Linked DNA regions of Homo sapiens. The main gene of each other region encodes a partner of the protein of the gene in region 2 in a complex. Each region holds a gene or a part of one and is shown on either strand. Other genes may lie near its edges. The genes, in order: GTF2A1, POLR2G and GTF2H5.

What was found.
Region 1: POLR2G (region 2) and GTF2A1 share a complex: the UniProt entries of both Homo sapiens proteins name them as parts of the TBP-based Pol II pre-initiation complex.
Region 3: POLR2G (region 2) and GTF2H5 share a complex: the UniProt entries of both Homo sapiens proteins name them as parts of the TBP-based Pol II pre-initiation complex.

The regions. Positions count from the first base shown.
Region 1 is NC_000014.9:81,210,830-81,214,486, reverse strand, and holds part of GTF2A1 (transcription initiation factor IIA subunit 1), read left to right. Parts: intron 1-3,657. UniProt on the Homo sapiens protein: TFIIA is a component of the transcription machinery of RNA polymerase II and plays an important role in transcriptional activation. TFIIA in a complex with TBP mediates transcriptional activity.
Region 2 is NC_000011.10:62,764,428-62,767,215, reverse strand, and holds the end of POLR2G (DNA-directed RNA polymerase II subunit RPB7), read right to left. Parts: intron 2,035-2,788; coding exon 1,984-2,034; intron 1,877-1,983; coding exon 1,811-1,876; intron 1,564-1,810; coding exon 1,492-1,563; intron 974-1,491; coding exon 940-973; intron 723-939; coding exon 709-722; 3' UTR 506-708; downstream 1-505. UniProt on the Homo sapiens protein: Core component of RNA polymerase II (Pol II), a DNA-dependent RNA polymerase which synthesizes mRNA precursors and many functional non-coding RNAs using the four ribonucleoside triphosphates as substrates.
Region 3 is NC_000006.12:158,188,781-158,192,437, forward strand, and holds part of GTF2H5 (general transcription factor IIH subunit 5), read left to right. Parts: intron 1-3,196; coding exon 3,197-3,377; 3' UTR 3,378-3,657. UniProt on the Homo sapiens protein: Component of the general transcription and DNA repair factor IIH (TFIIH) core complex, which is involved in general and transcription-coupled nucleotide excision repair (NER) of damaged DNA and, when complexed to CAK, in RNA transcription by RNA polymerase II.

The DNA.
Region 1 (3,657 bases), on a different chromosome or scaffold from region 2:
TTTTTAGTAGAGATGGGGTTTCACCGTGTTAGCCAGGATGGTCTCGATCTCCTGACCTTGTGATCCCCCCACCTCGGCCTCCCAAAGTGCTGGGATTACAGACATGAGCCACCGCTCCCGGCCGGGTCTCAGTAATTTGATAAATCGTCCTGAGATGAAAGAGTTTTAGAACTGCTGGTTTAGAAGTTGATTATTAGGCTCCTTTAAATCTATGTACAAATAAATAATCACAGTTAATAAATGTTAAGGAACATTTGTTGTGGTCTCATCCATTCAGCATAGGTGTCGAGGCTGCAACTTGGCAACCAGTTGCAAATCTTACCTTGATTGCGGTGATGAGGTAGGTCTTGGCGTATTTATTAATAGGTATCTACAGGAAACTTCTCTAGAATTTTCAATAAGAATATTCCTGTGTGAGGAGTTTGAGACCAGCCTGGCCAACATGGTGAAACCCTATGTCTACTAAAAATACAAAAATTAGCTGGGCATGGTGGTGCGTGCCTGTAATCCCAGCTACTGGGGAGGCTGAGGCAGGAGAATGGCTTGAACCCAGGAGGCGGGGGTTGCAGTGAGCCGAGATCATGCCACTACACTGCAGCCTGGGTGACAGATCAAGACTCTGTCTCAAAAAAAAAAAAAACAGAAAAACCCAAAAATATTTCCTGTGTGAGGTAGGAAAAATATATAGGTGTGAAACAGATGAGCAAATATTTATTTACCTTGAGAAAAATTACAGGTTACTAATAGTGAAGAGTAGGTATCTAAAAATACAAGTGTAAGAGTGCTAATTCCGAGACATGAGTTGGAAGAAGAACAATATAAATTGTTCAAGTAGCATGAAGTAACTGAGGGATGTGAATAATAAGAAAACAAGCTTCTTTTGATTCCTTAGTGTAACGTGGAATGAGTTTTTTGCAATTTATGTTATACTTTTATAATGGTTGTCCTTGTAGTTTTGTGACCTTGTATAGAAGATGCAGCATTTTTAGGTGTAGAAAATCAGTTCTAAAGATGTTAGGTAATTTTCTCTAGGTCAAACTAGTGGTCAGTCTAGATTGTTATCTACTCTCGCTTTTCACAATGAAAATCTGGAGAATTTTCCCTATCGTTAATAGTAGAATCAAGACATTCTCTCGAAGAGAATGAGCATCTTTGAGACCAAATGTTTCCACCTCCATTTTTGTTATATATGACTTTTTTAGTACATATTTTATAGGTAACACACTGATTTTTAGTTTAATGGTTAGTTTTTAAATGACAAAAAATGTGACCTACTCAATTTTGAATCCCCAGCTTCTACCACGATGTCTGGGCATATGTGGTTGGCATTCAGTAAGTATTTGATTGAAGTGTTTGATAATAGATACGGCACCTGAATCTAACTGAACAAAATAGTGTAATATTCTTGTTGTTTTTAAATGGGCCATACTCTTCTATCTGGGTTGTATTGGAGTTAAAAATAAAACGGTTAGACTAAAATGAGTTTGTTATTTTAATTCTCTGCACTGAATTTCTTCAGGATCTCATTAGAATTTCTAGAATATGCCCTAGATTTAACAGCTGGACAGCCAGCATTGTCCAATAGAACTTTCTGCAGTGATGAAAGTGTTCTGTACCTGTGCTCTTCAGTATGGTAGCCACTAGCCACATGTGCTTATTAAGCACTCAAAATGTGGTTGGTGGAACTGAGGAACTGAATTTTTATTAATCTAAACTTAAATCACTACATATGGCTAGTTGCTGCCATATTGGACTGCTCAGGTTTAGACATTCTTGCTTAATAAAACGAACTTTAATTTCATATTTTATGGTTTAGAAAGCCTGTCATTAGCTCTAGCCCCTCTCCCTACTTTCTGGGGCCATTTTACAAACTTATCAAAAGCTTGTATAAGGCTGTAAAGGAGGCAGTGGTGAATTAGATTGAGAACAAAGATGAATGATGAGAATGCATGTAATTTGAGGGTTAATGAGGTAAGCAGAAAGGGAGATGATAAGAATATTTCAACCCAATCTTTGAGGTTATCTTTTGAAACACTGCAGGCCTACTTTAATGTGTAAACTGTGAGAGGTAGAAAAAACACAATAAAATACAGCCCTGGTTTTCAGTAAATCTATATTCGAATGTAAATGTGTTTTGGATTGGTGAGTGTCTGTGGGTGGGAATGACACTGTAGAAATTCTCTTCAAAGTGAATGATAAAATCAACCTGATTTCTAGATTTTCCAACCTACCTATGTCCAAATGTCAAGTACTGTGGGAGATATAAAACATTTTCTCTCTTTTTAATAAAACAAATGAGAAGAGTTGCCTCAATTGGAAGTATATCTGAAATTCAGTTTATCTGCCTCTGGTTCAGATTTCTCAACACTGGCATTATTGACATTTTGCACTGGTTAATTCTTTGTTGCAGGGGCTGTCCTATTGATTGTAGAATGTTAGCAGCACAACTGGCCTCTGCCCACTAGATGCCAGTAGCACTCTTCAGTTGTAACCAAAAATGTCTCTAGACATTGCCAGATGTCGCCGGGGGCCAAAATCACCTCTGGCTGAGAACCACTATTCTAAATATACTCTAGTTATATATATATATATATATATATATATATATATAAAGTACTTGATACACTCTAATTATGTGTAAATATTTGGACCATAAGTTGAATAATAATCTACTATTTCATTTCATTTATTCTTAGGGAAAGCTCTGTTTCTACAGCATTATTTCTTGGGAACCTAGAAGTGTAATATATTTTATCCAGGAGCTAGATGTTTTGTGAAAGTAGGAGAATCCTTCAGAATTTCTAGCCCACCATGTTGCCAGGTTTAGCCACCTAACCTCTGGGCTTGTGATGTGACGGGCTGCAGTGAAGGTCTCTGATGTGGCCTGGAGACATTTTCTCCATGGTCTTGGGGATTAACAGTAGGGGAGTGATAAGGGGATTAACTTGGGGAGCAGTAGGTCTCATCACATTTTATAGGTGAGAAAGTAGACTTGGAATGTGCTTTGACAAGGTCGTTTAGCTAATAAATGGTAGAGCCATGAACCTAGCCCTTTTGCCTCTATGTGACATATACAGTACTTAGCAGTAAGCAGGAAGGTAACAGAGTTTTGACTAGATCTTGGGTTGTTGGTGAATGGCACCTGAGATGGTTTTGATGGTCGGTGACCTGCTCTGATAGCAGCAGTCTAGTTTAGAGACTAGGAATTTGGACTAGTACTGGGATTAAAGGGAGGCAAGTGAGGGTCCTGGGGTACAGAATGCAGAGACATTCACTCTCTAGCCCTGACTGGGACATTGAAGTCAGACCACCTGGGTTATATCCCTATTCTGTCTGCCATTAGAGTGATCTTGAATAAGCTACCTAACTTCTTTCTTGTCAGATTCTTTTTCTGTAAAAGGGAGATAATAATGTCTATCTTATAGGATTTTTGTGAAAAAACTAGTTTGTACATGTATTTATAAAGTACACAGAATTTAGTAAGTTTTAGTTATTAGTCAACACAATATACAAATGTATACCTGAATCATTTTGGGAACAGAAGATGAATTTTCTCCATGTAATTTCAGATACCTGGCAAAGATTAGTATTCCTGATTGTTTTCAATACTATGTTAGTGGCTGGGTGCGGTGTCTTGGGTGCGGTGTCTCATGCCTG
Region 2 (2,788 bases):
TAATCCTGTAGGCATTTCATACATTTTTTGTCACCCTAACTAGATTGTGAGCCCTTTTACATCTTCAGTTCAGTTTAGTATAGTGATATACTATTGTTTATATACCCAACTTAGGAAAGGCTGTGTTGAGATCCTACAGTCTGTGTCATTACTAGCCTCTTATTCATCTCTCCCTGTCTGCTGTCTCCTCTCCCTTCTTTCCCAGCTATGCTCTTGGTTACTTTTAAGGGCAGGAGAAGAGCAAACACTCTGGAACTAGATCAGGACCCAGAATGCCACTAATGATGGTATCATTTGCTGGAAGCCAAAGACCCAACATCAGAGCCTTGACTTCAGTGAGGTCACCTTTAAACCTGGACAAATGGGTTAGTCAGTTCCCCTGGGTGGCTGAGGCTAGTAGAGGCATCAGTCTAAGAAAAAGAGGGGCTAGTAAGCAGCCAACTCCACAGCCTCTTTAAAGAGTTATTGTTCCTGCTAAAAAAAAAAAAAGAAGATAACACTTCCATGAGAACCAAGGACTTTTTATACTTAGAACACATACTGAAAAATGAGGAGGCAGTAGTTAAGCTACAAGAAGCACCAGATGCCTTCTGGGATGAGTTGCCTTCCTTGCCTCCACAACAGCAGCCAGACTGGACCTCTGGACAACATGATAAGTGTGACAATCACACTTCCTAGAGTAGGACCAAGGGTAGGAGGCCACCAGGCTCAGCTTACAAGCCCTGCGAAACCAGAAAAAGCATATCAGTTAGAACCGGAATTTAGGGTAGCCACAACCATGTACTCCTCATCCCAAGGCAAATGTCCTGGATCTTTCAAGCAGACAGCATGAAAGTTTCTTCTGTCTCTCTGATTTGGGCATTGAATCCTATATTACTCCCCACCCCCACACATCCCTTCTCCAGGCAATAACCCCAGCACCTATGATCAGGCACTCACCCAAGTAATCGTCCATCAGGGAGCCAATAGCAAACTGCAAGAAAGATGGTAAAAAGAAAGTGAAGCCAAGATGAGCACAGAACCAACCTCCACCCTGCAGCCCCAGGCCTTCTGCCCATCCATCCCTTCTTCCTGGCAGAAGAGCACAGAACCCCCTGAAACTGTGGGTGGTAAGAAATCGACAGCTCTCGGCCAGGCGCGGTGGCTCACACCTGTAATCCCAGCACTTTGGGAGGCCGAGTCGGGTGGATCATTAGGTCAGGAGATCGAGACCATCCTGGCTAACATGGTGAAACCCTGTCTGTACTAAAAATATAAAAAATTAGCCAGGTGTGGTGGCGGGCGCCTGTAGTCCCAGCTACTCGGGAGGCTGAGGCAGGAGAATGGCATGAACCCGGGAGGCAGAGCTTGCAGTGAGCCGAGATCGCGCCACTGCACTCCAGCCTGGGTGACAGAGCAAGACTCCGTCTCAAAAAAAAAAAAAAAAGAAAAAAGAAATCGACAGTTCTCAGCTCAACCTGGTATAGGTAGAGAGGTGGGGAAAAGACTCACAATGTCATTCTTGTCCACACGGGTCCCCACAATCTTTAAGCGGATCTCATCGTCCTGCTGAATCACAATATCCTGAGGAGAGGAGGGAACAGTGTACAGATGCTCCTCAGTTTATGAGAAGTTACATCACAATCACTTCACTGTAAGCCCGGGGGCATATTGAATGCACATCACTTTCACACCATCGTAAAGTCATAAAATCATGAATCAAGCCATGGTAATTCGGGGACCATCTGTACTCAGCCATCCCCAGGCCAATATTCTCCCTCAGGATGGCTGATTCTCTCCTTGTCTCCCTGACTTCTTTCTGTCCACTCACCTCATCCATTGTCTTGTAACATGGTGGGTTGGAGTTAGGATCAAACTCCATCTCTGAAGGGATGGACTGAAAGGAAAGTGAGATCTAGGTTAGCACTTTAAATGGATGCTTCAATAGATGGTGATGAATGAGTATCTGTCTTCCTCAGCCCCACCCAGTGTGCCCAGACTTACATGTCGAGAGATGAAGCAAGACATGGGCCCAATTTCTGTGAAGAGTCCAACCTAGAAAAAAAATGAGTGATCTTACGGCCGTGCACGGTGGCTCACGCCTGTAATCCCAGCACTTTGGGAGGCCGAGGCCGGTGGATCACGAGGTCAGGAGTTTCAGACCAGCCTGACCAACATGGTGAAACCCCGTCATTACTAAAAATACAAAAATTAGCCGGGCATGGTGGCGTGCACCTCTAATCCCAGCTACTCAGGAGACTGAGGCAGGAGAATCGTTTGAACCCAGGAGGTGGAGGTTGCAGTGAGCCGAGATTGCACCATTGCACTTCAGCCTGGCAACAGAGCAAGACTCTGTCTCAAAAAAAAAAAACAAAAGAGTGATCTTGCCTTTTCTTTGTCCCCTCAAGTGTTGTGTTTTTGTTTTTTGCTTTTTAAATTTTGAGACAGGGTCTCACTCTGTTGCCCAGGTTGGAAAGTAGTGGTGCGATCACAGCTCACTGTAAATTTGAACTCCTGGGCTCAAGCGATCCTCCCACCTCAGCCTCCCAAGTTGCTGAAACCACAGGTGCACACCACCATGCTAGGCTAATTTTTAAAAACTTTTTGTAGAGACAGAGTCTTGATATGTTGCCCAGGCTGTCTCAAACTCCTAGGCTCAAGCAATCTTCCCACTTCTGCCCCCCAAAGCACTGGGATTATAGGTGTGAGCCAGCGCACCCAGCCCTTTTCTCTTTTTTTTTAAGCTTTCATTTGTATTTATTTACATATTTACTTTGAGACAGAATCTCACTCTGTTCTCCACTCTGGA
Region 3 (3,657 bases), on a different chromosome or scaffold from region 2:
TCAGTTGCATGTCAGTGTCATCCCGGAGATCCTCATTCTCATTAAGCCTTATATGCCGATTTTTCCTTTTTTTCAGTCACCCAATAAACCACAGACTCCCAAGCTATCTCTGTCTCTTGCATTTTCATGATCTATGGCCCTGTTCACCATCTCCTACCCACCACCCTCCCCCACCTACCCACCGCAATCCTTTCCACTTTGCCCTCTGGGACATAGTGAGATGGCAGCAGCAGGATGCCCTGTAGCCTCAGCCTCTTCTCTGAACTTTCCTTTTTCCTTCCCCCACCCACCTTTTCCTTTTTTGCTGTGACAAAACCTGACTTTGTCCTGAGCTCACTGCTTCTCCCACCACCTTATCAGGTGGTGCCTTTTTTCCTCTACAAAGGCACCCTCTTGTACCATTGGGTCAGGAAACAGGATCAGTACCTTGCTTATTATTGCCACTTCCAGAAATTCTCCCTCCCTCTTCCATAGAAACCCCCAGTTATCAATCCCAGATCATCAGAGTGGACTACCCACCAACCCTCCTCTTTATAATCATCTACAGACACCCCAATCTGTCCTGAAGGTTTTCCCTTGAAAAAACTATCTTCAGTAGCTCTTCTCTCAAATCCTTAGTGATGTTAGTATCCGTGTGGGTAGTCCTTTAGATACCCTGTTCTCCCAGTTCCCTGGCCTCCTCTTCCACTGAGCTTGTCCTCCACCTCATCACAGCCACTCATTCACATAGTTGTAGCTAGACCTATCCTTCCTTACCCTCGTGCCAGCTCTTCAGTCTCATTTCAGGCATCTGACTCTGACCACCACCTCCTCTTTCCAGTTCACTCCCTCTCATACCTCACTCCATCATTTCTTCAACTTCGCCAGACCTATGGTCTGTTGATATTCCCATCTGTTCAGAGTCCCACACCTCTTCCTAGCTTCCAGTCTACCTTTCTGGTCGTTGTAGCAAAATTTCTCAGTAAAGAGAAGACTTGGTTCTCTTCACTGTCTCTAATTTCTTTCCTCCCATATGAAACCCACTCCAGTCATGCTTTCCCTATTATGACTCCACCAAAACTGCTATTGCCAAGGTCCAGTGACTTTCTGAATCCAGGGATCAATTTTCAGCCCTTGCTATACCCTATAAGCCTTTGACAGAATTGATCACTCCCACTTCCTGAGTAGCCTTTGTTCACATCGCTTTCAGGACTCTTTGGGTTTTCTTTCTACCTCGGTGGTCACTTCTTACTCAGCTTCTTCACTCAGGGGCCAGTAGGCATCTCAAAATATAACATCAAAAACTAAACCTTTTTTTTTTTTAGTAGAGTCAGGGTCTCACTGTGCTGTCCAGGCTAGTCTCTAACTCCTGACCTCAAGCAGTCCTCCAGCCTAGGCCTCTCGAAGTGCTGGGATTACAGCATGAGCCACCATGCCCACCCTAAAACCAAACTTGATCTTACCTGCAGATCTTACACATTCCTCTTTATCTCAGTAAAAATCTCCTCCAGTCTTCCATTTGCTCAGATGAAAAATCTTGGAGTTTTCTTGTTCCTCTTTCTCAAAGCTCATGTCCAGTATTAGCAAATTATGTTGGTTTTATGTCAGTATATATCTAGAATTCAACCACTTCTCATCACCTCCACTATTACCACCTACATCAAAATCATCATCTCTTGCCTGGATGTCACCTCATGGGTCCCCTGCTTCCATCCTTGCCTCTGCCACTCCCAGTCTTTTCTCAACCCAGCAGCCAATATGATCCTTACAGTTAAAATTTAAGTCAGTTTGTAAGTTAAATCATGTCACTTGGTAAAACCCAAAGTCCCCCAAATCAGTTCTGAGGCTCATACTCATCTAGGGATAGAAGTAAATCCCGTGTTAGCATCAGTTAATACCTGTGCTTGTACTTAAATCTTATTTTTCTTGTTTTCAGTAAATTATAGTGACATCTTTTGGATTAAATTGTTACCTTTACAATTGATATTGACATTTCTCAAGACACCAAAAGATTATATGAGATTTTTTTCTCAAGAATTGCAAAAATCTGTGGTGCAGCTTGACATTTTTATATTCATTTTTTGCTAAACACATTGTGTATTAGATCTAAAGAGTGTCCTTTGTCATGATTCAAGGTTTTTATGAAAGAGACATTTTGCTGTAAATCTGTACTGCCCGAGAAGAAATTGTATCCCTCTTTTCCCTTATGACTATCCTATTCTTTCCAAACCAAAAACCACAAGTTAATAAAATTGAATTTGGACCTCTTTCCTTGAATGCCTATTACAAGCCAAGCACTGTCCTTGACATTATCTCCTTTAATTTCCGTAAACAATTCTGTTATGTAGCCTCACTTTTGAGGTTGGGAACAGAGGCTCTGGGAGATTAAGTACCTATTCTATTCAAGGTCACACAAGTAAGTGATGAAGCTGGGGTTGAATCCAGGTATGACTCTTGATATACACCCTGCCTGACCAAAGTGACTGTTTAACTGGTTTTGTAAGTTAATTTGTCACTGGTAAAACATTGAACACCTACTGGTTCCTTAGATGTAATGGGCATAGACAAGGAAGAAATTCAGTGTTTAAATCAGTTAAGAAAGCTGTGATTCTAGGCCCTACTAACTACAAAGCTTTCAATATTCTTTTATTTTTTCCACTTAGTGACAAATTATTCTTTAAAAATCTTGCCATTGGCCTCTGCCTCTTCAACTTACACTAATAGTTCTTTTTTTTTTTTTTGAGACAGAGTCTCGCTCTGTCGCCCAGGCTGGAGTGCAGTGGCACGATCTCCGCTCACTGCAAGCTCTGCCTCCCAGGTTCACACCATTCTCCTGCCTCAGCCTCCCAAGTAGCTGGGACTACAGGCACCCGCCACCACACCCGGCTAATTTTTTGTATTTTTAGTAGAGACGGGGTTTCACCGTGTTAGCCAGGATGGTCTCGATCTCCTGACCTGGTGATCCACCCACCTCGGCCTCCCAAAGTGCTGGGATCACAGGTGTGAGCCATCGCACCCGGCCAACTTACACTAATAGTTCTAAAATGAAGCCATGTCTATAAATTGTTAACACTTGAGGCAGAGAGGAAGTGAGGGATTGAGTAACAGAACTTTAAAAATCATTCTAAAAATTCTACATGTTCACATTTAATTGCTCAAGTCTCTGTGATGTGATTTGACAACAAGCTGTCTTACAATCATGTGTTTGTCTTTACAGTGATCCTGCCATGAAGCAGTTTCTGCTGTACTTGGATGAGTCCAATGCCCTGGGGAAGAAGTTCATCATTCAAGACATTGATGACACTCACGTCTTTGTAATAGCAGAATTGGTTAATGTCCTCCAGGAGCGAGTGGGTGAATTAATGGACCAAAATGCTTTTTCCCTTACCCAGAAATGAAAATACTCAATATGGACCATTTAGGAATTATAAGCAGCAACTGTGAAAGACTTGCCACTCAATATCTTAGGTGACTGATTAGACATAGAGGGTTGTTTTAGGAGCATGCCACGGGAAAGACTGAGGGATCATGATCATTTGTTCAGAAAAAAAGCCCCTGAACTGATTTTGTTACCATAGAATTTAAAAAAAAAAAAAGCTTTAACAGTTGGCTGTAATTTGGCTTTTATTATCCTTTATTAAAATACAAATGTCAATGCTTTTCCTGCCTTTTTAATAC